5 linked regions of the Homo sapiens genome follow. The protein of the gene in region 2 interacts with the protein of the main gene of each other region in a pairwise test. Each region holds a gene or a part of one and is shown on either strand. Other genes may lie near its edges. The genes, in order: RBBP8NL, EGLN3, NCAPH2, CTBP2 and IKZF3.

The links.
Region 1: the proteins of EGLN3 (region 2) and RBBP8NL interact in binary tests that used the Homo sapiens proteins (3 or more experiments, as listed by UniProt).
Region 3: the proteins of EGLN3 (region 2) and NCAPH2 interact in binary tests that used the Homo sapiens proteins (3 or more experiments, as listed by UniProt).
Region 4: the proteins of EGLN3 (region 2) and CTBP2 interact in binary tests that used the Homo sapiens proteins (3 or more experiments, as listed by UniProt).
Region 5: the proteins of EGLN3 (region 2) and IKZF3 interact in binary tests that used the Homo sapiens proteins (3 or more experiments, as listed by UniProt).

What each region holds. Positions count from the first base shown.
Region 1 is NC_000020.11:62,423,872-62,429,963, reverse strand, and holds the start of RBBP8NL (RBBP8 N-terminal-like protein), read left to right. Parts: upstream 1-2,424; 5' UTR 2,425-2,504; intron 2,505-6,092.
Region 2 is NC_000014.9:33,929,601-33,935,254, reverse strand, and holds part of EGLN3 (prolyl hydroxylase EGLN3), read left to right. Parts: intron 1-4,039; coding exon 4,040-4,159; intron 4,160-5,654. UniProt on the Homo sapiens protein: Prolyl hydroxylase that mediates hydroxylation of proline residues in target proteins, such as PKM, TELO2, ATF4 and HIF1A. Target proteins are preferentially recognized via a LXXLAP motif.
Region 3 is NC_000022.11:50,509,788-50,515,441, reverse strand, and holds part of NCAPH2 (condensin-2 complex subunit H2), read right to left. Parts: intron 1-5,654. UniProt on the Homo sapiens protein: Regulatory subunit of the condensin-2 complex, a complex that seems to provide chromosomes with an additional level of organization and rigidity and in establishing mitotic chromosome architecture.
Region 4 is NC_000010.11:125,152,928-125,158,581, reverse strand, and holds part of CTBP2 (C-terminal-binding protein 2), read left to right. Parts: intron 1-5,654. UniProt on the Homo sapiens protein: Corepressor targeting diverse transcription regulators. Functions in brown adipose tissue (BAT) differentiation. Isoform 2 probably acts as a scaffold for specialized synapses.
Region 5 is NC_000017.11:39,794,051-39,799,704, forward strand, and holds part of IKZF3 (zinc finger protein Aiolos), read right to left. Parts: intron 1-5,654. UniProt on the Homo sapiens protein: Transcription factor that plays an important role in the regulation of lymphocyte differentiation. Plays an essential role in regulation of B-cell differentiation, proliferation and maturation to an effector state.

The sequences.
Region 1 (6,092 bases), on a different chromosome or scaffold from region 2:
GCCCTGCAAGGGACAAGTAAACTGAGACTCAGACAGTGCCCTCTGTGTGCCCGATTCTCACAGCCAAAAGCCCCGTAAATGTGTGAGTCACGTTCTTGGCCATCCATGTGCCCAGAGCCTGGACAGGGCCTGGTGGGCAGCCAGGAAATGGGTCTTGGATGGTTGCATGAATGAACAAAGGGGCACACAAACCCACGGCTGCAGAAGGACGCCGACCTCCAGCGACATTCGACCTCCTCCTCCTCTCCCAGCCTTCCCTCCTTCTCTGCCCACAGTGCAGGTGCAGTGCCAGGGGGCCGACGATGTTGCCTGGAGTTCAGGGTAGGAGGCTGCTGGCCTGGGGTTGCCACCTTCTCCCTGGGGACCCAGCCACAGGCACAACCTGCACGGGCACCTCTGTCCTGTATCACCAAGGCCTGGACATGGCGGGGTGGGGTCCCTGGCCAATGAGCCAGGGCAGGCAGGCACGAAAACTGGCTCAGTCCAGGAGGTCGCTTGGCTTTGCTCAGGGAGGAACTCAAGGTCGAGCCGGTGGTGTTAGACAGCAGCTTTGATTGAAACAGCCATGCATGGCAGATGCAGAGGGACCCCTCCTTGTGAGGCAGGGCTCCCCACAGGCAGTGAGCCCAGAGCTCACATTCATACCTGGAGGCTGCAAGTTCAAAATCAAGGCACCAACTTGTTCCACGTCCGGAGAGGACTCACTTCCCGGTTCATAGACGGCACCATCTCGGGTCCTCACATGGTGGAAGGGGCAAGGGACCTCCCTGGAGCCGCTTGTAGAAGGACACTGATCCCCCAGCAGAGCTGCAGCCTCACGAACTTGCCATCTCCCAGAAGCCCCGCCTCCTAACATCATTGCCTGGGGCGTTAGGATTTCAACGAGAATCTGGGGTAGACACAAAAAACATCCAGACCACAGCACAAAGCAGCTACACATGTCCACGCACACATGTGCACACACACACGTGCAACACATGCACACACAGGCACACACATGTAAGACATGCACACACATTCGTATCCCCACACACACACACACACACACGTGCACACAGTCCCCACACAGGCACACACAAAACACACGCCAGCAGCAAGCAGACCCCACTCACAAAGGGCCCAGCCAGGAACAGGGAGGTGGCCGGAGGAGGGGCCTCCACGAAGTTCCCAGGCCAGCCAGAGCTGGAGTGGCCCATGCTGACCACAACCCCCTCCCAAGAGCCTGGTCCTGAGTGGGAGGGCATCGTGGGGCCAGAGATGACCCAGCCCTCATCCCAAACCCAGAGCTGGCCACCAGCCACCAGCAGGGGCCCTGCCAGGGAGCAGGAAGTCCGTCCTCCCCTCGCGGCAGCGGCTACAGGCCAGGCTCCCAGGCTTCCTCCTCTGAGCCCCGTGCATTCCTGGGGTACTCGGGTGCGCTGGGGATCATGGCCCCAAGGACTCGGGAACCCCCGCTCTGCTTCCGTGCAGAGCTAAGACAGGCTGAGGATGAGGCAGAGGCGGAGGTGGAGGCGGGGAGGAGGGAGTGGGGAGGGGTCGTGGGTAGGACACAGGGGGCAAGGCATGAGGGGGTCAGGGCTGTACCCCGCAGCCACAGTGTTGCTGTCCAGGGAACACACACGAGACCACAGTGTGAGGCTGCTCCAGCACCTGGGCCGTGCCACCCGGGGCCAGGCCAGCCCCCAGCCTATTTGCCCCCCTGGGCTCCACCTGGCCGGGGGCACCCAGCCTACCTGGAGACTGGAGAAGCCCACTCACAAGCACTCACAGACCCCGGGCAGACTGCGCAGACCAGAGGCCCAGCATGCGCCCAGTCCCCCTCAAGCAGAAGGCCTGCTTCCCCAGGCAGGGCGGGGCAGGCTGGGCGGGTCGCTTCCCATAGCAGCTGCTGGATTTCTGTCCACTGGGTTCTGGCAGGGACAGCTCTTGAGCTTATTATCCCCAATTTACAGACAGGGAAACCGAGGCCAGAAAGGGGACTGTCACCTACCTATGGTCAGCCCACGGTGAGCTGAGCTGTGAACAGCAGGAAGGACCACTCTGTGTCAGAGGCCCTACCACCTGTCCCGAGGTGGCGAGACAGCACATTTGCTCACTCCCACCTGCAGCCCCCGACCCAGGCACCCCTGCAAGCCCCCCACCCTTCCCCGCCCGGGCCCTCCGTGTCACAGGCACCAAACTGGATTCTCAGTGCTAACCAGCTTGGCTCCTGCAGCCCAGCCTCACAGTGATTATGAGGAAACAATCCCAACTCTATGTGGCTTCAGACCCAACCTGTCCGGCCACTTTCTGCGAGATGGCAGAACCCGCCTGGCGGCTCAGGGCAGTCTCTGCCTCCTTTCTGCTCCTGGCTGGGAGAATCGAAAACCTGTCAAGCGGGTTTGGCCAAAATCCTGTCTTGTTGCCTGTGCAGGTTCACAGCCCGCTCACTTCTCTCTCCCTGTGAAGAGCGTGGGGGACTCCGCGCAGAGGTCGACAGAGGTTGAGGCAGGGCCAGGAGCCATGTGAGTACCCGGGACCCCGGGGCCAGGCCACCCAAGTAGCCGGGTGAGCTGGGATCCCTGGCTGGGGTGCTCACCAGGGAGGCTGGAGGCCCAGCTTGGACTCCTGCGAGGAGAGCCGCGGGGGTGGGTGGGACTGGACGTCTTCCCTAAGGGGTGGCACAAGGCTGCTCCTGGTCCAGGGACCTAGCAACGGAGAGAGCTCAGTGGGCGTTCCTGGCAGGAGCTGGGTGCAAAGAGGCCAGGCCTAGTCTGGCACCAGGGCCCAGGAAGTGTCCATGGTCTGCTGAGGGGCTTGGGGCATCAGGGACAGGCTGGTGGCCTCGCCCTCCACCCTGGGCCTGTCCCGCCCCACCATCCAGGTTCACAAGAGGATAAGCGGGCGCAGCCACAGGGGTGAGGGTGGTGCAGGGGTGCAGCACCCGCAGCTGGGCACTGAGCAGGGGACTCCTCTGCCGCTGTGTCTGTGGGGAAGCAGCCACAAAGGCGGGCCTTGCTCAACCCCCTCCCCCACGGGCCAGGCCTCAGGGAGCCAGCCGGCAGGGCAGGAGAGCAGCCCGGCCCACCTCCACCTCCGGGAGGGAGTCAGGTTGCAGGGCTGCTGTGCCTGAGCTGCAGGGACACCTCGGCTGGCTCCTCTGTTTATGTGTACACACGAGTGCACGGGCGCACGCGCGTGTGGGGTACACGAGTGCATGTGCACACACAACATGCGTGTGCAGCTGTCCCGGGGGCCCTGCGGCGGTGTGTGCACAGGAGCCTGGGTCAGGGCTCACCACCAACATCTGTTCTACAGTCACAGAAACTGAGGCACGGCCAGACAAGCGACCTGGCCGAAGTCTCCATGGGAGAGGCTTTGCCCATTACCACAGAGGGTGGGAGGAGACTCTGAGGCCATGTCCAGGTCCAAATCTTGCTCCACCTGCTCATCTCTGATCTGCTTCAAGCCTCAGTGTCCAAACCTGTAGAATGAGACAATCAGCACTTCCTCCAAGGCCAGGTGGGCCCCGGCCACATGCATGTGCCCAACCTAGCTATGCAGTGGGTGTTCCACAGGGGCAGCCAGGAGGTGGACAGGGGCAGGGGAATCCCTTGGGGAGAAGCGGGTCAAGGTGCAGAGGGCACCACTCTGAGCTTGGCTTCCTCAGCAAAGCTGCAGGATGGTTTCAGTGCCCATGCAAGTGGGAAAAAGCCTGGTGTGGTGCTTGACACAGAACAGTATGTGATCAACAGCAGCCACTGCCACTGCCACTGCTAATGCCACTGCCACTGCCGCTGCCGCTGCTTCCACTGCCACTGTCACCACTGCCACTGCTACTGCTACCACTGCCACTGCCACTGCTAATGCCACTGCCACTGCCGCTGCCGCTGCTACTTCCACTGCCACTGTCACCACTGCCACTGCTACTGCTACCACTGCCACTGCCACTGCTAATGCCACTGCCGCTGCCACTGCCACTGCCACTCCCACTGCCACTGCTACTGCCACTGCCACTGCTATGCCACTCCCACTGCCACTGCTACTGCTACTGTCACTGCCACTGCTATGCCACTGCCACTGCTATGCCACTGCCACTGCCACTGCTACTGCTGTGGCCATCACCGTTGCTCCTGGATAGGTGGGCAGTCAGTCAGATGGACATACAGACAGCCCAGGCCTCAGAGACGGAGGGTACCAGTGTCCAGCTCCGCACTCCTGCCCCAAAGAGCCTGCTGGGGGTCGGTGGCTGGGGTGGAGAGCAGCCGGCCTGGCAGACGTCCTTGGAGCACTGGTGCCCAGGCGGCTTCTCTGGTTGAGTGCCCTCGGAGAGGCGGGGAGCCCAGTGATGCCCCGGATGCCTCCTGCTCAGACAGCAGAGGAGCTCAGGGGGCCCGGCCTCCCAGAGGACAGGGTAAGAACAGGCATCACTGTGGGTTTTGGCACTCGGCCGGACAATGTCCAGTCCTGCCAGGGCCACAGCTGGGCCTGTGATTCCCTGGCCTGTGTGTGGGAGGCAGGTGGCATCTCCCCTGGGTGTAGCCACAGAGATGCCGTGAGCCCATTGGAGTCCGTAGTGAGCAGCCGTCCAAGGATGAGTGTCATCACCGTCAGAAGCCGGACCTCTGCCCTGAGCGTGGGGAGGGCTGCGTCCTCCTGCACAAGGCCTTTGTGGCAATGAGACTTGACCTTGTCCAAGCACAGAGGGTCCTGCCGTCAGCACTGCTGGACACCTGGGGTCCCACATGAGGGAGGCGCAGGTCATGAGGGAGGCGCAGGTGAATCGGGGTCTCCCTCGGCTGCTCACTGAGCGCTCCTGTCTACGGAGCTCCTGGCCACACAGGCATTACCTGTGAGGAGCTTCTAAGCAGCCTGATACAGGGGCAGGGGTGCTGTCACCCCCAGGTGAGGAAACAGGCTCAGAGAGGAAAAGCAACTTGCCCAAGGCCGCATAGAGAGCAGAGATGGGTCCGAGAGCCCCACCAGGGCTGCTGACTGGGAAGCCCACACCTTTACCCTCCGCCCAGACTGACTCTCCAGCCAGCACCCTTCAGGAATGCGACCCCTGCCCCGCCCCAGCCAGCTCAGCGGGTGGGGGGGGTGCACCCTCTCTGCTGGGGCTCTGAGAATGCGTGAGGTAGGATTAACAACAGCAAACCTCTGCCCCCTCTGAGTGGCCACTCCAGAGTGCCCTGGGAGAGTGGGTGGAGACCCTAGGAGGGCAGGTGCAGGCTCTGGGGGGCCTTTAGAGGGAGGTGGGAGTCCTGAGGGACAGGCAGGGCCCACAGTGCATGTCCATTCCCTGGATGAGGACATGAGGTGGAAGGTGGTCTGCCAGCCTCAGGCTCCCCATGGAGGGCTCTCCTGGGCCCTGTCCGGGGGATAAGAGGCACCCGTTTACTGGATGGGCTCTGTTCCGTTCTGGTGAGAGCAGCACGTCGCCCCTTGGTTTTAAGGAGCAGTCCCCCGAAGGCAAAGGTGCTGGCACCAGTAGCACCTCACTGCAGGAGGCGGAGCTGCCGGCCTGGGTTAGCTGAAGCCCAGCCCGGCTCTCACTAGCTTTGACCGTGGGCAAGACGCCACCTCTGGGTCGTGTTCTCAGTGGCAAAATGGAGCAGAGGGCAAGGCATGGTGGGGTGAGAGTGGTGTCGAGGGGGACAGACATGCGCCCCTCACACCTGCCCCCCCCACGGCCCAGCTGCAAGCAGCAGGTGGGACAGCGGCTCACTAGCCTGCCCTCCCCTTCCCCCACTCCTTCCAGGGGGCTCAGCACCCACAGAGACCCTCCAGCCTGGACTCCCGAGTGGGAGGGTCTGGGAGTGGGAGGAGTGGCTGAGGGTGACCCTGGACCAGAGCTCAGCTCTCTCACCCCAGCCCTGTGAAGCCCCCCATGAGCCTCAGCCCAGCCCCTCCCCGCCCCGGTAGGCTTGCTCCCCCATCACAGCCCCACTGCAGCCCCCACCCAGGCCTGGAGGAGACCCTCCTTCCGAGTTCCCCCAGCCCCAGCACCCCTAGCTGCCCTTGGCAAGCCCAACAAACCCAGAGAAGGCTGACTCGGGAAGAAAAAGCCAGCCCCACTGACCCCGCTGCTGACCCCTGGCTCAAGGCTGCGG
Region 2 (5,654 bases):
ATCTTTAAAAATAGCTAACATTTATTAAGCACTTAGTGTGTGCCAGGCCGTGCATTAAGCATTTTACATGGATTATCTCCCTGAGTCTGCATAAACCCATTTTACAGATGAAGAAACCAAGGTGTAAATGAGCTAAATGCAGATTATCCCGTACTTAGGTTGCATTTTATTCAAAGTACGCTTTGCTCAAGACCATGCTTAATTCAAAATGAATCCTTACAAAGGTTGGCTGGTATTTCTACTTAGCAGCTGGAGGGGATCTAGCATTTGTCGGTAGATCAGAATACTAGTTTAAAGCTCCTTCAACCAGATAGTTTTGAAATCACGCTTTTCTCAACAAATCTTAAACAATGGATTTTCATTTATTGGAAATTTTGCAAATAAAATGAGATCTAATTAGTACTTTAATTTGGTGAGTTAAATTTTGTATAAAATGCCACTTTATTATAACTTGTTCAAGATCGAGTCATACTAGTGAATCTGTCTCAAATCATGAGCAATGTAAAATACATTTCTATGAAAATACATGTTGCAACTGTTAGCAGAGAAGTGGTAACGGCAGGGTGGGTGTATCCCCTTCTCACCTGTGGGTCTGAAAAATGATCATCATTGCCTAGTGGATGGTGGAGGTCACTGATGCCAAGTTTTTGAAATGGTTTTTACATGCAGTCAAGCTGCGGTTGATGGCATTCAAGAGCATTCTGTTTAGGCATTGGAATGGAAATCCTGGACTTTTATTTTTCAACTTTACCTTTGGACTTGATGAGATAGGTTTTTTTTTTTTTTTTATGAAGTCAGCTCACTGGTAACTCTTAACAGAACCACTGTTTCCTTTTCCACCTGTGGCATTTGGGGACCACTTTTTTATACTGGGTTTTGACTGTTACGGTTCTATATATCTGTGTATATCTTCAAAGGATACATATACGTTTGTTGTCTGGACATGGCTGCATACGTGTCTAGAGCACATATTCTGGTCTAGAGCCAGCCTGGGCCGGCCTGATTCACCTCTCCACTCATTTCCTATTGCTACAGAGCTAAGGAGAGGCCTCTGGGAATGGGGATGGTGGGAGGTGGGGTGGGTACACTATATAATGTCAGTGGACAGAGCGGTAAATGTGTAAGGGGACATGTGGATTTATCAGTATATCCAAGAATAGAACTATAGGACTATACTGTATGTGCTGCTGTAGATGACACTACTGTGTTAAACTTGCGTAAACTTCAAATATTAATCTAGTCAGGAAGTTTTAGAAAATAAAAAGCCTGTACTAAAGTAGGCATCCTCTTGATATGTGTCAGTTTATTGCTTGGCATGTTTGTTATATGATCATTAAATTACTCTGGCCCGTTCTTTTAACAATAAAGCATTGAAGACTTCTCTTCTGTTAAACACTAAATCCCTTCCCCGGCTTGATGAGGTTTAGATAGCAACTCAGTTGGACTGATCTGTTTCCGGAGTTTGTTACTGCCCCGTGCACAAATTGGCACAGAAGTGAATGGCTAGTTATTGAAGTCAGGCTTGCTTCTCGGTGCATCCTTAGCCTCATGGTTTTAGACCCTGTCAAAGACGAGCAAATAGTTGGGAATGTGCCCAAGCAAAGACCCATCTCCTATGGCACTCATCCAGAAAACACACTGATAAAATTGGCCAAATGTAGCCTCAACTGGCCCACTGATGCTCGAAATGATTTCCTTCCATTGTTTCCAACTTGATGCATGTGGTTTCTGGAACCAGGAGAGAGGGTGAATGTTCACTCTGGCCAGAAAAATTATCTCTTTGCCTCCCTCTTAAGCAGTCGGATACTTTGCTGACATGTAGGGGTTTTGTCCTAATAGTAAGTCCTCTGGAATTGGCTTTGTCTCTGTGTGTTTTATAGATGCGGCATTTGGTAGAGGATTTACTTTTGTGAGTTTGTATCCATCTTTTTTTTTTTTTTCAATATTTTAATCTGAGCTGAGTTCTGAGGCAGAGAAACACTCCTTAATGACCTGAAGAACTATGTTGCTTTTTCAAGGGTTGATGCTTAGATCAAGTCTTAGATCTTCTTGGGCCTTTGACAGCTGCGTAACCCAATCCCCTCTTTATAGGAAAGAGACAGCCTGGGATCACAGTTAGTTGCAGAGTGAACTATGGCAGGCATCCAGACCACTGACCTTTTCCTTAGAGAAGAGCTGTTTAAGCATATAAGATTATAGCATTGATGTCATACTTTTTCTTTTCAGACACACTCAGTGGGGGGAGCCTGAGATAATAGGGAATCCAGCCTGTAATTGTTTGTGGCTTAAGCGACTTTCATTATTGGCTCTGTGGTGGCTCTTATAATCCTAATAGCTGCTTCCAGGGGTGGGTAATTCTTTAGTCATTATAGGTGACTTTATTTGTCTCTTCTTCTCTTGCTAGGCCCATCAATTCTGTTTGCTACCAATCACCCTTCCTCAAGCCATGCTTTGCTTAGTGGTACCATCATTTGTTAAATCTTCATTGCTGACGTCGCCTCACAGTTTCACCTTCTGAAAGATGTTCAAGCTAACAGCCTAACTTGAGCTCTAAGGATGACATCACATTGACATTTTGATGTTCAAAGGCAGGATATGGGGATTGTTTGCTGCATGAGGATATGAAGTTTGAGAGAGATGGTGATTTAAGCTTTAAAATTGTTGTAAAGTCCAGTTACTATTCAGCCTTATTATTGATCTGGCATGCAAGGTGTGTTTTGCCTAGTTCCGTGTTTTCATGCTACTATTGAGAGTGACTCGGCAGCCACGTTGAAGCTGATTCATTGAACCACTAGCCCATTAGCTTGGGGCTCTACTCAAACGGTCATTTTACCAATGAAGCAACGCTGCCATTTATCAGGAAATATATGGCCTGGATCTTTACATGTATGTTTGAAGATAGGTCTTTTAAAATGACAGAAATAGCTATTGATCTAGGTAAAATGTGAACTTACTCTTTAGAGAAAGAGCCATTCGCTAGTTCATTGATTTATTTATCACATTTTAGATGGACACCTTCTGTATGTCAGGCACTGTCCTAGGTGCTAAGAATACATCAGTGAGTAGAACAGGAAAAAAAATCCCTGTCCTCATCTTGTGTTGCTGGTTCTAATATTTTCCTTGCACCTACTGCATCCCTATAAAAAATATTTTTCAAACATGGCGGTATCCTGTGAAGAAAAGAACTGGCTTTCTATACTTTGCTTTCTTCCCCCTCCCCACTCTGTGTTATAATTTTTCCCTTGGAACAATTAGAGGTCTGTTTACTCTAATGGTAATTTTCAGTAGGATTTTTGGTACGGTTTTCTACTTTATTCTTCCACCTGGTTGATACAGGTAGCACTTAGACAAAGAGAACTTCAGATTATCACCTGATTACATAATTATCAGGAAGAAGACACATATTAAGATACATGCATGGCTTTTTTCCTGAAAGGAATCTCCCTGTGTTGTCTGTGTTAACAAGTTAGGGTGCGGCTTCCTATTGATCTTCCTCTATTCTTTCTATCCTGAGCATTTTATTGAGTAAGCCTGACCTTTTCCTCCTTTGGTGATTAGTTCTGTCACTTTGTGTATGCAAATACCTTTAGCCATTGTTCTGAAACAGTGTGAGTGATTCAGCAGCACTTGCTAAACAGTCATAATCCCTAAACTCCACACCTAGTGACTCTGATTTTGTAGCATGGGAAACTAGAAACTGCTTTTCCAAAAAGGAGTATTGAAGAAAGGCAGGGCATACAAACAGGTTATGCAAACAGGGCATGCAGATAGGTTACTTTAAGAAAGACTGTGTAAAATGTTCTAGAACTGTGGGAATATTGTTGAACTACTTTCCACTGGGCAGAGCCATAGTATGACCTGGCCATTGTGCACAGAAGAGTCCAAATTTATGTACCATACATGAAATTAAGAAGCCAGCAACTACCTGTAAATGTCACGTAACACCCAAGGAGACTGTGTTACTTATCTGCTCACCAGTGGGAGGAGAAGATTGTCTGTCTCAGCTTTGTTAACCAGCTTTCTTGGGATTTCTCCATAGGCAATGGTGGCTTGCTATCCGGGAAATGGAACAGGTTATGTTCGCCACGTGGACAACCCCAACGGTGATGGTCGCTGCATCACCTGCATCTACTATCTGAACAAGAATTGGGATGCCAAGGTACTTTTGAATAATGGGAGTAGAGTGTGGGGTTAGAAACTACAGGAAAATGATTCAGATAACTTAGAGGAGAGTTTATATTGAGTTCATAGTTGCCGTATCTCCCACTGATGAAACATTTCTATTTCCATTTCATAACCTCCTGCGACAATGGAATTAGTCCTAAAGTTGTTAAGAAGAAAACAATGAAGTTAATTTGGAGTGGGGTAGGTAGGGTGATTATTAACCCTACCTCTGGGAAGGGTGGTTGATGAAGGGAAGGTAATTTGATATTAGGATTAAGGATTAATTTTTTTCAGTTTAATTCAGAGTTGTTCTGACTCAATGCAGAATAGGATATACACTTTTCCCTCCCAGCAGCAGCATTGAGAAAGTTCCACAAAAATAGAACTGTAGGCTATAAAACCATCCCCAAGAGAGATTTCCCACACAGTCCTCTCCCTCGGGGTGGTATGTCTCATTGATGGCTGCTTGCCATGGCTTACTATGGTTTGTGAATGCCAAAGGCTTTGTGGCTTATTTTTGTATTATAGAACTTATAGATAGATGGAGATATGAAGCCTGGTTCCATGCTTACAGACATTCATCTGGACTCTGTATGCTTTCCGAAAGTTAAGAATGATTTAGGAGTCTGGGAAGTCAGATAACTTTTCAAGCTTATTTGGCTTTTGAACCTTCTGCATCTCAATTTCCTGTTCATTAGGCAAATACTGGCTGTCATAAAGCAATAATATTTATCCAGAGTCAGAAAAACGAAACTTGGGAAACCATTGAATCAGTGAAAAGGCCTATCTCTTCTCCCTGTTTGGTAACATGACTGGAATACATCCATTAAGTCTCCTTTAAAATCTTGAGAGGTGCTGATAGAGACAAGAGAATAAAGTTATCAGACTGGTAATAATAAATTGCAAGGTCTGGAATCATTTAACAAATATTTGAGTTCCTGCTAGTGTCAGGCGTTGTATTATGAAGAAACATTGATGTGTGAGGCCTGAACTTTACTCTGAATATGGTTATTCTAGTAGGATGAAATAGGTTGACATGTAAAAAAAATAATTCAAGGAAGAGAGTGGTGTATGTCATAAAAGGTGCAGATTAGGTGGTCTGAGAGTTCAGTAAAAAGAGCATGTAACTTCCAACTAATGAGGTCAGATAGGAGCTAAGGGAGTTCAGAAGAGCTGTAAATTCTAATTGAAGGGGAAGTTACATGTGATGATTTTCTTAGAAAGTTGTTAATGGTTAGATGGAACCATGTGAGATCACTGGGCATTTTTTTTTAAGTCAAAAACACTCAAATATTGGCAAATCGGTATGATTCAATCTAATAGTACTCTATTTTACGTCCATGGGCTTTATGACTGTGGGGGGTGGGAGTGCTTTTTTTGGTTTAAGGTGAATAAGGAGATATCTCTAGCTAAGTTTGATATAAAATTTGGTACGAAGTGGCTGGGCGTGGTGGCTCATGCCTATAATCCCAGCACTTCAGGAGGCCCTA
Region 3 (5,654 bases), on a different chromosome or scaffold from region 2:
CTGGGCGACAGAGCGAGACTCCGTCTCAAAAAAAAAATGTTTTTGTAGAGACAGGGTTTCTCTATGTTGCCCAGGTTGGTCTCAAACTCCTGGCCTCCAGTGATCCTCCTGCCTCAGCCTCCCAAAGCACTGGGATCACAGGCATGCACCACCGTGCCCAGCCACAAACGACACTTTGAAGCCCCTAGGTGTCTTTCCAGCTCTTCAATTTTGCATTTCCATCTGCCTGGAACACCGACCCCCAGCTGTCCCCACGCAAACTCTTTTTCAGAGCCCCTCCATTCCTGGGGCCTCTGTGCCGCTCCCTTAGTGTGATCGTGTCCCTTAGTGAACTGTGTGAGCAGCATTAGTGTAATTCCAGCCTTCTGTTCAGTGCCTGACACTGGTGTCCAGTAAATATTTGATGAACACATGCATAGATAATGTCAAAGCTAAGCCTGAAAAACGCAGAGGCTCACCAGACAGATGAAGGGAACGTGAAGGCAGCTAGCAGAGACTGGACACGTCTCTTCAGGAAAATGAGCATGATCTAAACATGGCCAAAGCATGGCGCGTGCTGGGGAGAGGCAAGATTTTAGGCACCATGGTAGCACGAAGGAGTGGCAGAGGCTGGGAAGCCATCCCCAAGGGGAGTCACTTCCATTAGCTCTTGAAGGATAAAGGGTGTTTGTCAGATCTGGGAGGAAGGGAGAGGAAACAGCAGCATGGTCGTCTACGGAGTGTAAGGACCTCGGGGGTGTTCAGGACCTGAAGAGCTGGTCCAGAAAGAAGGGAACATGGAGGAGATGGCGGCCTGGAAGCTGAGCTGCAGAAGTGGCCCTTCTCTCCAGTGACCCTCAGCCTGGCTGGCTTGCCCACTCCCAAGACACTACTGGGCTTCACTTGTCTTCTCACCTCCCCAGGTTGGACCTGCCATCTGAGCCCAAACCCACATGTTCAGCTGCCTTCTTCAAACATCGCTTGGATGGCTTCACCAAGATTCATACTGAATGCATCCACACTGAACTCCAAATAGCCCCCAACCCACCTGCCCAGAAACCCAGGGGTTCCTCTCCACAGTCACCCCCATTCTGGCCCCACCACCTCCCCTTTCACCTCTGCACTGACAGGGCTCCTCCTGCCCTTCACTCCCCTCCCGTCCACTCTCCACGCTCTGCTCAGTGCCTCTGTTTAGGATTTTGGGTTTTTCCTAACAGTGGCAGGAAAAACCCAAAATCCTAAACGGAGCCAGAGGGAGGCCTCCATGCTGGCCAGCCTCCCTCTCCAGCTGCCTGCCCTCCTCTGCTCTATGGTCCCAACTTGGAACCTTCTGTTTTGTTTTGTTTTGTTTTGTTTGAGACGGAGTCTCACTCTGTCACCCAAGCTGGAATGCAGGGGCGCAATCTCAGCTCACTGCAACCTCCGCCTCCTGGGTTCAAGTAATTCTCCCTGCCTAAGCTTCCTGAGTAGCTGGGATTATAGGCGCCCGGCTAATTTTTGTAAAAACTCCAATCCTTCCAACACCAGGTTTCCTCCACCTGGAGCTAAACATTCTTTAGCTCACCATAAATAAGTAACTGCTTTCATCTCAAACAAACTAAGCCCCCCAAACTCTCCACAGGACCATACATTTTCTTTCAAATCCCTTATAAGTTTCTGGTGATTTTTTCGGTTGGTTGGTTGGTTTTGGTTTTTGTTTTTGAGACAGTCTCTCGCTCTGTTGTCCAGGCTGGAGTGCAGTGGCACAATCTCGGCTCACTGCAACCCCTGCCTCCCAGGTTCAAGTGATTTTCCTGCCTCAGCCTCCCAAGTAACTGGGACTACAGGCATGCACCACCATACCTGGCTAATTTTTTTTGTACTTTTAGCAGAGACAGGTTTTCACCATGCTGGTCAGACTCATCTCGAACTCCTGACCTCAAATGATCCTCCTGCCTCGGCCTCCCAAAGTGCTAGCATTACAGGCGTAAGCCACCTCGGCCTCCCTAAGTGCTGGGATCACAGGCGTGAGCCACCTCGGCCTCCCTAAGTGCTGGGATCACAGGCGTGAGCCACCTCGGCCCCCCAAAGTGCTGGGATCACAGGCGTGAGCCACCTCGGCTCCCCAAAGTGCTGGGATCACAGGCGTGAGCCACCTTGGCCCCCCAAACTGCTGGGATCACAGGCGTGAGCCACCTTGGCCCCCCAAAGTGCTGGGATCACAGGCGTTAGCCACCTCGCCTGGCCATCAGTTTCTGACTACACAAAGTCACACGCAGGGGTGGAGGCTGGATTCTGATCTGCCAGGAACCACTATCATTCAGAGTACATCTCTAACGCCTCTACTAACAAGGTTTTTGTGAGGACTCTGCATTCATATGTGTAAAGCACATAAAACAGGTGCTTAACACAAGTAAACACCAAATGCATATTTATTACACCCCCATGCGGTTACTCTCTTGGACCCGTCTTCCCATGACAGAGGAAGTCCTACCATAGTGGGGATTATCATTTGCTTTGCTTGGCACTATTTTTTCAAAGTTTAACATGGTTCTTGGCACACAATTCACAACTAACAACAATGAATAAATAAATGGATAAAAGAGAGTAGGATCATGACAGTACTAGAAGAACATTCTGGCCAGTGCAATGGCTCACACCTATAATCCCAGCACTCTGGGAGGCCAAGGCAGGTGGATCACTTGAGCTTGGGAGTTTGAGAACAGCCTGGGCAACACAGTGACACCCCATCTCTACCAAAAATACAAAAAATTAGCCAGGTGCGGTGGCACATGCCTGCAGTCCCAGCTACTTGGGAGATGGGAGGATCACTTGAGCCTGGGAGATCGAGGCTGCAGTGAGCCATGATTGCACCACTGCACTCTAGCCTGGGCAACAGGGCAAGAACCTATCTAAAAAAAAAAAACAAAAAAAAAAAAACAAAGGACAAAAAAAAGAAAAAGAACATCATGGTAGTGTGTGGAAAATGACAGAAGGAAAAAGATAATACTAGAAACCAGGAAATCAGGACTTCAAGCTGCAGAGGTTTGGAAGAGCAGACATAAGAAAGCAGGAAGGGAGCTGACCAAGCCAGGAAGGAGATTTACCAAGTGAACAGGTGTCCTCATGGACCCTGCTTGATGTGAAAACCTGAATCCACAGGAGCTCTGCCCAGCACAGTTCCCCGTATTTTCTCAGCCAACTATGCATGAGAGCAGAGAAGTTTGGTCATCAGATCACATGTGCATTTAACAAACACTTTAACGTCCACACCTATGTGCCAGGCACTCTACTAAGCAGACAAAAGAGGGCATAAGTATGGTCCCTGCCCTGGCAGAATTCACATTCTAGGGTGGAGACAGGCCACAAACAGGTAAATGAGTTGAAGAATGGCTTGTGGCCAGTCGCAGTGGCTCACACCTGCAATCCCAGCACTTTCAAAGGATGAGGTGGGCGGATCACGAGGTCAAGAGTTCAAGACCAGCCTGGCCAACATGGTGAAACCCCATCTCTACTAAAAATACAAAAATTAGCTGGGGCCAGGCACGGTGGCTCACACCTGTAATCCCAGCATTTTGGGAGGCCGAGGCGGGTGGATCACGAGGTCAGGAGACCAAGACCATCCTGGCTAACATGGTGAAACCCTGTCTCTACTGAAAAATACAAAAAAATTAGCCAGGCGTGGTGGCGGGCGCCTGTAATCCCAGCTACTGAGGAGGCTGAAGTAGGAGAATGGCGCGAACCCAGGAGATGGAGCTTGCAGTGAGCCGAGATTGTGCCACTGCACTCCAACTTGGGCCACAGGGCAAGACTCTGTCTCAAGAAAAAAAAAAAAATTAGCCAGGCGTGGTGGCAGGCGCCTGTAATCCCGGCTACTCAAGAGGCTGAGGCAGGATCGGACGCGGTGGCTCAGGCCTGTAATCCCAGCACTTTGGGAGGCCGAGGCGGGTGGATCATGAGGTCAGGAGATCGAGACCATCCTGGCTAACACGGTGAAACCCCGTCTCTACTAAAAAAATACAAAAAATTAGCCGGGCGTGGTGGCGGGTGCCAGTAGTCCCAGCTACTCGGGAGGCTGAGGCAGGAGAATGGTGTGAACCCAGGAGGTGGAGCTTGCAGTGAGCCGAGATTGCACCACTGCACTCCAGCCTGGGCGACAGAGTGAGACTCCGTCTCAAAAAAAAAAAAAAAAAAAAAAGAGGCTGAGGCAGGAGAACTGCTTGAACCCAGAAGGTGGAGGCTGCAGCAAGCTGAGATTGCACCACTGCACTCCAGCCTGGGTGACAGAGTGAGACTCCATCTCAAAAAAAAAACATATAAATAAATAAAATTTTTTTTGGCTGGGCGCGGTGGCTCATGCCTGTAATCCCAGCACTTTGGGACACCGACACGGGCGGATCACCAGGTCAGGAGATCGAGACCATCCTGGCTAACACGGTAAAACCCCGTCTCTACTAAAAATACAAAACATTAGCCGGGTGTGGTGGCAGGTGCCTGTAGTCCCAGCTACTCGGGAAGCTGAGGCAGGAAAATGGCGTGAACCCAGAAGGCAGAGCTTGCAGTGAGCTGAGATCATGCCACTGCACTCCAGCCTGGGCGACAGAGTAAGACTCCATCTCAAAAAAAAAAAAAATTTAAATGGTTTATGATAAACATTCTAAAGTGTGTAAGGTGCTGAGATGGAGAGGACTATTTTAGATAGGGTGGTCAGCTGACATTTACACTAAGACCTTAAGAATGAAAAGGACTCAGTCAGCCAGGCGTGGTGGCTCACGTCTGTAATCCCAGCACTTTGGAAAGAGGCAGAGCTGGCTGGATCACCTGAGGTCAGGAGTTTGAGACCAGCCTGGCCAATGTGGCGAAACCCATCTCTACTAAAAATACAAAAATTAACTGGACGTGGTGGTGCATGCCTGTAATCCCAGCTACTCGGGAGGCCAAGGCAGGAGAATTGCTTGAACCTGGGAGTCGGAGGTTGCAGTGAGCCAAGATTCTGCCATTGTACTCCAGCCCGGGCAACAGAGCAAGACTCCATCTCAAAAAAAGAAAAGAAAACAAACTCAGTCATTGAAAGAATATTCCCAGCCAGGTGTGGTGGTGCACAGCTATAGTCCCAGCTACCTGAGAAGCTGAGGCAGGAGGACTGCTTGAGCACAGCAGTTTGAGACCAGCCTGGGCAACACAGTAAGATCCTCCTCTCTGATTTTTTTTTTCTCCTTTTCCTTGCCATATGAAGTCCCTCTTTATTTAAAAACAAAAAAGAGGCCGGGCGCGGTGGCTCACGCCTGTAATCCCAGCACTTTGGGAGGCCAAGGCAGGCGGATCACGAGGTCAGGAGATCGAGACCATCCTGGCTAACACGGTGAAACCCTGTCTCTACTAAAATACAAAAAAATTAGTTGGGCGTGGAGGCGGGCGCCTGTAGTCCCAGCTACTGCAGAGGCTGAGGCAGAATGATGTGAACCCAGGAGGCGGAGCTTGCAGTGAGCTCAGATCGCGCCACTGCACTTCCGTCTCAGAGTGAGACTCCGTCTCAAAATATATAAATAAATAAATAAAAACAAAAAAGAAGATTCCCAAGTGGGGGCAGAAAGCATGAAGATCTTCCACCAAGAAAAAGCTTGGAGGGGCCATAGGTTGACTGGTTCAAAAGAACAAGATACAAAACAGCCCAAAATGAGGCTAAAATGGAGAGC
Region 4 (5,654 bases), on a different chromosome or scaffold from region 2:
GGGTTAAGTTCTTAGAGAGTCTGATGCGAGTGGCTGGAAGGATAGACAAGAGAATTCTATTCTATAAATATGCATTGGGAATTTAAAATGCTAAACGCCTTATTTGCAATTCTGTTGGATATTCTAGAGACTGGTATATTTTTATCTGACATGGATAATTTTGAGGGGACGTTATATTTTGGGGAAGTTTACAAAGTGATTCTTTCTGCCTTTCTAACTTGGGCGAAATATATCGACTCATACCACCCTTTCAAAAAAGATAGCTTTCTCTACTAGGTGTTTGGGTTCGAAGACAGTTTAAAAATTACCTCGTGTTCAGTACCTAAGATTGCTGTTTTGCCTCGAGGGTTTTCCAAGTAGAAGTGGGTAGTTTTCATGTACTTTGAGAATTCTGAGGTTTTTAACCCCCCCCTTTTTTTTTAAATATAAATCTTTTCTATTTTGAAGTAATGAGACTTTAAAGGATCTTGTTTTTGTAATCACTTGATTTCAAAGGATACTTCTTACAGCAATTATAAAGTAATAGTCAAAATGCTAATTAGACATTTTCAGTCATAGCTGCTTTAATGTTGAAACAGAATTTTTTTCTTTAGCAGAGACTGTATCGTAGAGTTGAAACGCTAAATATTCTTTTGTCTGGCATCAGATCTCTGAACTGCTCTGACATTCTCCTGAAAAACCCCTAGTGCCCTTTTTATTGCCCCCAAAAGAAAAGTTAATGAGATGGTAGATTTCAAGCAAAAAAACAGGCCCTCTTTCTTGCAAAATATGCTTACAGTTGCCATTGAAGTTGGATGTTAGCCGTGAATGCACTTGCCTTTAATGAAACCAGTTTAATCGTTCACACTTGATCAAGTATAACATGAGCAAACAAAGGAAATAAGCCAGCATATTTCTGTAGAGTGTAAGTGTTGATGTTGGGTCACCCCCTCCCCCTACCCTGCCCCCCTGTAAAAGGGAGAGAGGGTTGAAGGCAAAGGGAATTTATGGCGCTGATTGGTTTTTTGTGCCCCAGGGGTAGGGGACCCCAGTTACATCCCTGTGGAAAGCAGTTATTAGAGGGAATTAAAAGATCTTGGGTTTGGAGCTTGTTTTGAACCTGACTAGGTGGTTTGGGTTTAATTCTTTTTCCTGTTCAGAAAGATAAGGTAAAGAATACCGACTCCCCCCCGCTCTTTTTTTTTTTTTAACCCCCACCTGACAACCCCCTCTCTAATTGTACCTTAATAAGAGTCTGCAGGTTGAATGCAGAACCCTGTGAGTTATTTACGGTTTCGCCTGGGAGCTTTGAAACTGACCCTTGAATGGGTGTTCTCCTGCGGGGAGGGGCAGGGTGAATTACCTTTTCTTAACTGATTTTAAAAAGCCTCATTGTCCCTAAAAATCATTTCCTTGCACGAGTTGCAATTTATGTGTGGAACTGAATCATCAATTCCGTGAAGAGAAAGATATTCGTAAAGTACATCTCTCTAAAGTTAAGAAAGTAAGAACGTTTGGCTAGTTAAAAACAAACACTACTGCCATTGTAAAAAACACGCCAGTGACATACTTGGTGAGATATTTTGGCCTTTTGAGAGTCGGGGCACACCTGTTCCTGTCCCTGCCAAGTTGTGTGTGCTTTCCCTGCCATTGTTAATCTGGTCGTGTACACAAGATGAAACGGTAAAACTTGCTATCTGTATAATTATTAACTAGTTTGTCAGTTACCCTTTCAGAGAATAATCAATAACTTCAGTCTTAACTTTTAAAACTCCAGAAATTTTACTTTTTAAGTCTGGAAAATGTTTCAAAGAGAGATTAAATGAAACAAACAAACAGCAACAACAAACAACAAAACCAGAAAATCAACCTACAACTTTTTAGTTTCTGAGTAGCCAGCTACAAGGCAAAGAAATGATGAATATATATAGTATGTACTGAACAAGCAGTGCACTGGATTTTAAAATGATATTTTTATTGTTACCATTGCTGTTAAAATACAAACAGCTCACACTATTTGAAATCCTTGAGATTCACGGATTGAAAAAAAACCGAAAAGGACACCTCTGAGTGAGGGAGTAGCCCTGCTGAGATCTAGCACCAGAATGCCATTTGCCAACAGTTCACTAACATCATGAATCATTTTTGAAAGCAAAGTTATACCCTTTGCACTTAACGCTTTCCCTAAATGGAAAAAATTTAAAGAGTTTACAGCAATGGTAGAATGGCAGCCCCAGTTGTCATTTTTTTACCACTGTCATTTCCATAGAGAGGGGCTGTCATCATAATGTATGTGCATGCAGCCTGGGTCCCTCTGTTAATCTATCAGGGAAAAGCAGCAGCCCTAGTGTCCTGTGGCCCTGAATCAGGCCACAAATATATATTCATACAGCACATGGTTGGGAAGGGAAATTTATCAGTTGGGCAGGGCACAGCTCAGGTAATATTTCCACTTTGGGATGGTAGGTCTGTTACACAGGGTGGAACATATTTTTGTAGTAACTAAAAAATGGGAGGGCAGTGTGTCTGTCCCTGGAAAAAGAAGTATTTGTACTTAATGGAAGTGACCCATGTGGTGAAATCTCGGGGTGTCTTTTCCCCAGCAATCTTTCTATGAATTGCTAGGGGAGGAATGCTTGTGTGAACTTACCCTGCTGAAAACTTTTAGTGGGCACATGAAATGCTGGAATGGATACACTTTTAGAGACTGTGCGGCCTGGCAGATATCAGTTTTCTCCCTTACAGCTGGTAAGCATGTCTTAATTTACGCTGCTGCAAGTTAAAGTTACAGCACTCCTGGAAAGAAGGGAAAATGCAAGGCTTCTCCTCCCCACCTCATCTTTTGAAGTTAATTTTCATTCAAGTCTGTGTTTGATGGAATATGTATCAAAGACTTATGAAAGAGTTTTTTTTTTTTTAATCCTATCTTGGGGTTTGGAAAATTATATTTAATAATTGCTAAAAACTTAAGAACCATTTTAAAGGTGTTCAGTGGCCCTTTTGATCATGATTTAATGGAGAGTATCCAAAAGCCATCAGTGTGACTCTAATGATATTCACAAATTAATGTTTGGGCATAATCTGGAGTTTGCTTTTAGCTATCATTATTAATGTTTAAAGCCTAAATTATGGCTGCACTTGGGCATTCAGAACTTCGCCTGTGAAAAGAAGGGCTTTGCACATTGTGTAAAAAAAAAAAGGGGGGATTCACAAATGAATACAGAATGTACAATAGGGAGAGAGCCAGGCCATTGTTTGTGTGGAATGTTGACCATGGGAGCCAAGGGCTAGTTTCGCCTTCATTCTTCTGACTGCTGGAGAACACAGAAACTTCAGGAGCTGTGGACGGGATGGGAACCAGGGGCACATTCATCCGTCTTTGCCGGGCATGGAGATTTGGCCTGCCCCCTTTCCAGAGTTTTTCTTAGAAGGTGGTCTTTTCTGGACTGCTAAGGAACGTCGTGTGCTTTCTCTTCTCAGTAATCTGCTTTTTTGAGGAACGATTTTAACGGCAGATAGTAAGAGTTCCTCAAGGAAAGTAAACAGACCTTTTCTACCCCCTCGAAATGTGATTTTAGGAAATGATATTCAACTTCAGAAAGGAGGCATCTTAAGTCACAGGAGGAAGTTGTGTTTATTTTTACTCCTCTCCTGACTTTAAAGTAGTTTTTAATCTGTTGGTAGCATTAGGGAGAATGCAGCTAAAATAAGTTTTTGCTGGATGTTCATGTTTTGCGTAGCTGCTGCCATTTCGGAAAAAGCTCCTCCCCCATTCACAAAGCCCTTCTCCTTCCACGTGGGAGCCGAGGTCCCAAAGTGGAACCAACTCTGTAGCTTAAGGGAGGTGCATTCCTGGCCCCTCACTTTCTAACCCTCACCTTAAGTGGAATATGTAGATAATATGTAGATCATTAACCATTGTTGGTGTCTGAAGCCTGTTCAGTTTTTTTAGCAACGACACTCGGTGAGAACCAGTTGTAGTTTGCATGTGTATATGCCTAGTCCCTCCCTCAGTGAATGTTTTAGAAAGTGATCTGCTTTAGCTGTTTACCTAACTAAATTTAACAGATGGTTGCCTAGAGTTGGCTTAATATTCACAAAAATTGTGATGAAATGGTTGGGATCTTATGAATGGGACAAGTGATGATTTTGTTTCTATAGAGAATTGTGACTTTTGTCCTAGGTAATAATAGAGACTTCGTTTTTCCCAAAGATCGGTTGGTGTTTAAAGGATGGGAACCCTGAATAGCTGCTGTTGTCTGCCCCTGATCCTGGTGGTGGCCAGCCTTGCCTTTGGTTTTGTTGCCTTCTGTGAGTCCAGAAAAGCCCTGGAGGCAGGGGTGAGGGGGGAGAGGGAGGGCTGGGCTTTTCATCCGTGGGGTTCTAAAAATCCTTCTCATTTATAAAATACAAAAATACTTACCTTCCATTGTATTGCTGATTTGTGCTTCCTCCAAAGCTCTCCTCTGATCAGCAGAAATGTGCTTCTTGCATTAAAACAAATCCTTAATTATGACTAAAAGAAACTGTCAGCTGCCTTAAAGATTGTCTGGAAATAGTGGCAATATTTCTGTGTCTCATTCCAGCCCACGTTGTGGCAGAAGCCTGGAAGGGCCACGTTAAAGGATGTGTCACAGAGACAGTGTGTGTAGGTCTTCCTGCAGCACAAGCAAGCTCAGGGCTTGTAAAGTCCAGCTTATCGTGGCTGTGCTCCAGCCATGCCTGAAATCTGGCCTCCAGCAATCTGTCCCGTCCCAGGACAAACAAAAACTTTATTATGGAGTCATGGAACCTGAGGAAGTTTCTCTGGAAGGAACCGAAGACCTAGACCGTGGAGGGAGATCAACTCCTCTGGCCTAATGGGGCTTTTCTTTTTCCAAGATGGAATTTAAAAATCTCATCTATAAAATGAGGCTAGCAAAGAATCATTTTATGGTGTAAGTGGCCAGAATCTAACCTGGAAGTGATAGTATTGTACCTGCCGCAGGTGTGTGTGTGGCAGCGGGAGGGTGGAGAGGGGAAATGAGAGGAGAAGAGTTTGGAGGGGAAAACAGAGCATTCGAGGTTTCTCTGCTGGAGGGGGTGAAAGGCCAGGAGTTTGTGCACCTTTCCTTTTAAATGAGCTCTAGCTGTGAGTTTATTATTTTGCTGATGGATGGTCTTTCGTGCAGTCTAGAAGTGCAAACACAGTCGGCTTATCCGCTGCTTGTTCAGGTCCAGGGAGACCAAGGGAACGGGTGGGGGCAGTGCTTGCAAATCCATCTGGATCCTGGACACCCCACTTGGTGTTGCTGCAGCCAGCTCCCAGGCCTGCCCACCTGGAGTACAGCCAGCGCCAGCAGCGGGCAGGGCCCGAGAGAGCTCTTAAAGCCATGTCCCAGGAACGGTTGAGGGAACTGAGAATGTTCAGCCTGGAGTGGAGACACCCCTGGGAAGCCCAACATTGTCCTCTGTGCGGTCATGTGGCCTTACTCTGCTCGGAACAGGGAGGCCTTGCTGTTGGAGCTGCCGGGCCAGATGGGCTGCGTGGGCTCCTGGCACAGGCAGAACTTGGCTGACCATTGGCTCCCAGTGCCAGCCAAGGCTCTGCAAACACCCGAGACCCTGATGGAGACTCAGGCTTTGGGAGCACCTCCTAATGAGCTGGGGAGGATACTGTGTTTTCTTCCCAGTGG
Region 5 (5,654 bases), on a different chromosome or scaffold from region 2:
GAGGAATCACAAATCAATGGAGTGTAGGGCTGGAAGGGAATTTAAAGGTCATCTAATCCAACCCTCTTGTTTCTCAGATGAGGAAATCTGGGAGCAGAGATGTTTTTGGTCATTTGTCGAAGGTTACACATCCAGTTACTGGCAGAGGTGTGATTAGAATGCAAAACTTAAGCTTGAACTATCAATTACTTGGATTTGACCTCATGCACTAGACATATAAGGCCTAAGTGGGTTCTTACCAACTGTATTACACACCCTCCCATCAATGGTGTAAATGTTAAAACCCAAAACAGTCTGAAAAAAGATATTTTAAAAAACTACATCCCTTCCAAAAAACATCAGTAAGTGTTGCTCCTCTTGCTGCATAGGAGGAAGTACAACTGCAGCTGTGCCTGGCTTGCTACCTTCAACCCAAGTTTCAATTTTCACTTCTATCAAGGTTACCTTTCATCTATATTAACTGTGTTTGCTTAATAGAGCAAGACAGGGCCTAACCACCATCAGAGGAGCCAGGGCTGCCACACAGTTCCACTGCTTCCTACCACAGTTCATGGTTCACAACTTTTCACTCTTTGACTAGCAAAGATGTAGGGCTGTAGGATAAGTCCAACATGTTTCAAATTTGCCCACCCTATGGATCTGGATTATATAAGAAATGATATCTGTTTCCTACTTGGAAAGAGGTTTACTTCTTTCTCTGGATAGGTCTTCCCTGCTTTCAAGTGGAATTTGTTTGCTTAAGTGTTTATTTTTTATTTTTTTAAGAGAAGGATGCACCTGAGGCTTGTACTTGCCTCCCTTCCTCCATCACTCCAGCTGTGGGTAATATCCCACCAAAGCTTGAGTGCTCTTCAGTTTGCATGTAGGCGTTTAAAAGAACCTCAACGGAAAATTTCAGCTACTTAAAACCAAAAACAGCAGATAGAAAAGGCCAGCAGAAAAGGATCCTTTCCATTTTGGTTAGAAAATGTGAACATGACCAGACTCAGGCCACTCCATGGTCACTGAACTTTAAAATGTAGTAAGATCAATGTGTTGAGTCTTTCTGAAAACAGAGGACATAAGAGAGCTGCTCCTTTCCCTCAGGATTTTGGCTTTAGTTGGCCTGACCTGGAATTCAATACGACACCATCCTGGCTCAAGAGCAGATCTTAGCTTTAGTCCTTTAGGAGTCAGCTATAGAGCAAGGAAGACAGTATTTGAGACCCAGGGACATAAGGACACAGGGACAGGGCATTAGAGAAGTCCTTTGGGCTTACATAGTTGCTGGTTTGCCTTTGGAGTCTTACCAGTTTTAGATGAATGACCTGGATGACCTCTCTGCATGGTTACTGGGGATTAGCAACTTATTTTTATTTTATTCTATTTTATTTTTTGAGACATAGTCTTGCTCTGTTGCCCAGCCTGGAGTGTAGTGGCACGATCAGCTCACTGCCACCTCTGCTTCCCAGGTTCAAGTGATTCTCCTGCCTCAGCCTCCCGAGTAGCTGGGATTACAGGCATGCACCACAATGCCTGGCTGATTTTTGTGTTTTTAGTAAAGACGGGGTTTCGCCATGTTGGCCAGGCTGGTCTCGAACTCCTGACCTCAAGTGATCCACCCTCCTTGGCCTCCCAAAGTGCTGGGATTACAGGCCTGAGCCACCGTGTCCAACCAGATTCTAATTTATTCTAATATTCAACTCTGTTACCTTCTCAAGGTAAGCCATAATAAATTGCTGGCTGGGCATAGTGGCTCATGCCTGTAATCTCAGCACTTTGGGAGGCCAAGGCAGGTGGATCACTTGAGGTCAGGAGTTTGAGACCAGCCTGGTCAACATAGCAAAACCCCGTCTCCACTAAAAATATAGAAAATTAGCTGGGCATGGTGGCTCCCAGCTACTGGGGAGGCTGAGGCAGGATAATCGCTTCAACCTGGGAGGTGGAGGTTGCAGTGACCCGAGATCGTACCACTGCACTCCAGCCTGGGCGACAGAGCGAGACGCCATCTCAAAAAAGATAAAATAAAATAAAATAAATTAGAATTTAAGGTATGAATGAGATTCCTGAGAGATATTAGGCTTAGTACTCAGCCTCCAAACACAGTCCACCAAAACCAGGAAAGGCATTAGCCTGCTCTAATGAAGAGATTCATCCCATTCCCTGGAAGACTTATTGAAGCAGAGAAAAGGGGTGTTCTACTTAGAAAAATTCTATTAGAAAATACTAATGAACATGTCTAAAATCAAACTTGTCATCTTTGAACCCAAACTTGCTTCTAATTTATGACTTATTTATGTTGACAAATGGCATCACCCTTCTTCCAGTCTCCAAGCCATCAAACTGTGGAACCTTTTCTCTTTCAATTTCTACATCAAGTCAGTCTCCAAGATCTATCAACTCTATGTCTTCAGGCTCTCTAGGTGCCAACTCCTCTTTTCCTTTCCTTTTGCAATTTGGTTTCACCTTTCATCACATCATACCTAAATTCATCCTCTCTCAACATTCCTTTCTTTTTTTTTTTTTTTTGAGTCAGAGTCTCACTCTGTTGCCCAGGCTGGAGAGCAGTGGTGTGATCTCGGCTCACTGCAACCTCTGCCTCCCTGGTTCAAGCGATTCTCCTGCCTCAGCCTCCTGAGTAGCTGGGATTACAGGTGCCCACCACCACACCTGGCTATTTTTTTAATTTTTTTTTTTTAGTAGAGACGGGGTTTCACCATCTTGGCCAGGCTGGTCTTGAACTCCTGACCTCGTGATCCACCCACCTCGGCCTCCCAAACTGCTGGGATTACAGGAGTGAGCCACTGCGCTCGGCCTCAACATTCCTTTCTAGACAGATTTAAGACACAGGTGGTCCAGGAGCGGTGGCTCACACCTGTAATTCCAGCACTTTGGGAGGCCGAGGCGGGTGGATCATGAGGTCAGGAGATCGAGACCATCCTGACTAACATGGTGAAACCCCATCTCTACTAAAAATACAAAAAAATTAGCCAGGCGTGGTGGTGTGCGCCTATAGTCCCAGCTACTCAAGAGGCTGAGGCAGGAGAATCGCTTGAACCTGGGAAGTGGAGGTTGCAGTGAGCTGAGATCCCACCACTGCACTCCAGCTTGGGTGACAAAGTGAGACTCCGTCTCAAGAAAAAAAAAAAAAGACATAGGTAAGCTATGCTTACTGCCTCTACAGCCTCAAAAAGGACTCAGAATTCTCTGTAATATGGCTTCCGCCTCCACAATTCACTTAATCTGCTCCCTTGAATATCACCAACCATAATCTCCTGATTCCTAGATTCAGAGCCTTTTTGTATGCCACTCTCTCCAACTTCTTTGTAATCCTCAACACTACTGACCACTCACCATTCCTTGTTCTTCTGCACTCCTATGTCTTTTCTTTCTTTCTTTTTTTTTTTTTTTGAGACAGAGTCTCACTCTGTTGCCCAGGCTAGAGTACAGTGGTGCGATCTCGGCTCACTGCAACCTCTGCTTCCCAGGTCCAAGCGATTCTCCTGCCTCAGCCTCCCGAGTAGCTGGGACTATAGGCACGTGCCACCACACCTGGCTAATTTCTGTATTTTTAGTAGAGACAGGGTTTTACCATGTTGGCCAGGCTGGTCTCGAACTCCTGACTTCAGGTGATCCACCTGTCTTGGCCTCCCAAAGTGTTGGGATTACAGGCATGAGCCACCGTGCCCGGCCCCTGCACTCCTATTTCTTCAATGAAAATGTACCTTCTTTCCTTGCCTTTCTGATTGCTTCCTTCTTGCCCCTTTTCTTCCCTCTGCATCCTAAATACTGTCCTTAACCTTCTTTTTTCTTCCCTCTACACCCCTCTTGTATGGCAATTTCATTCATTCTTAAGGCTTCGACTAACATCTTATATGATTAATTTCCATATATATAACTCCAGGTGTAACCTCTCTCCCTTTCTTTAGTCCTCTATTTCTGAAGGCTTCCTAGGTATCTTCCCAGTTACTCAGGCTAGAATCCTTAGAGTCATCTTTCCTTTCTCCTGATTGGGCCCCACATTCAATCATTCAGTGGTTCTATCTGTGTATCCAATCTCTAATCTGTTTCTCCACTCCTGTATTTTGCATGCCCATTACCTAATTCTCAGACCCTATGACTTTCCCACGATCTACTTATTGCTGTAGCCCCCGCACTGTTCTCTTTGGCTCCCTTCTTTCTCCTTTCCAGCCCGTCTTGTTTGTTGCTACAAGATTGCTCTTCCTAAATTCTACCTCTGGTCATGTCATAGCCCTGTCAAAATTCTTCAATATTTTCCACTGCCAACAAAATAAAGTCCAAACTCAGAAACAAATAATTTAAAAGGCCTTTCGGGATCTGGCCCCAACCTATCTTTGGCATATTAATTTTGACTAGTTAGATCTTTAACTAAAGAGCTTCTAAGTAGTCTTATTTCTACTGCCTAAAAGATCTTTCCCCAATATGGCCACAGGTCCAAGTCCTACACATCCTACGTATTTTTTTTTTTTTTTTGAGACGGAGTCTTTCTCTGTCTCTCAGGCTGGAGTGCAGTGGTGCGATCTCTGCTCACTGCAACTTCTGCCTCCCGGGTTCATGCCATTCTCTTGGCTCAGCCTCCTGAGTAGCTGGGACTACAGGCGCCCACCACCATACCCAGCTAATTTTTTGTATTTTTAGTAGAGACAGGGTTTCACTGTGTTAGCCAGGATGGTCTCAATCTCCTGACCTCGTGATCCGCCGGCCTCGGCCTCCCAAAGTGCTGGGATTACAGGCATGAGCCACTGCGCCTGGCCACTGTCCTACACATTTTTAAAGGTCAAACTAATATGCTGTCTCCTGGCTACTATGCCTTCTCTGATCAACCCAGCTGGAAAATAGCCTGCTCCTTCTTCCTGGGTTACTTATGAACTCACCTCCCCTAGTCTCCCCAATAAATATGTAAACTAGCTGAGGGCAGAAGCTATACAGATTGTGTGTGTGTGTGCGTGTGTGTGTGTGTGTGTGTGTGTTTAACTCAGTATTCCCTATGACACTGCTTAACCTGTATCTGTAAGACCAGAGGTTATGTGGTTTTAAAATAGAAAATTTGGGGCTCCTACCATAGATCTACTAATCTGGGGGTGGAGACTGGAAATGTTCATTTAAAACCATGCTCTCCAGATAAACCTTATGCACAATGGAGTTTGAGAGCCACTGCCTCGAGTTAGATGCAGTGCCCTACATAAAGTAGACATCCCATAAATTCCTGGTGTATGAATATATCATTGCATTAGCCTCCTAACTGGCCCACGGTACATGTGACCTCTGTTATACTGCATCCTATTGCCAGAATAATCATGCTGTAGCAAAGAAACTCTTATTTAAAACTTTCAATGATTTCATTTGCTTATAGAATAAAGTCCAAACTCCTTAATGAGGTATTCAAGCACCTGTCCAGAACTTGCCCCAGGACTACTTAATCATCTCATTTCTCAGTCTTCTTGAATCACCTTTCTCTCTATACTAGAACTTTACTATGCAAAGTGAGGTCCTTGGATAAGCAGTTCTGCAACCGCCTGGGAGCTTGTTAGAAATACAGGTGCTCAGGCCTCAACCTAGACCTACTGGACCAGAATTTGCATTTTAACAAGATCCTCAAGGATTCTTATGCACATTAAAGTCTGAGAAGCACAGCAGCAACATGACTAATCACA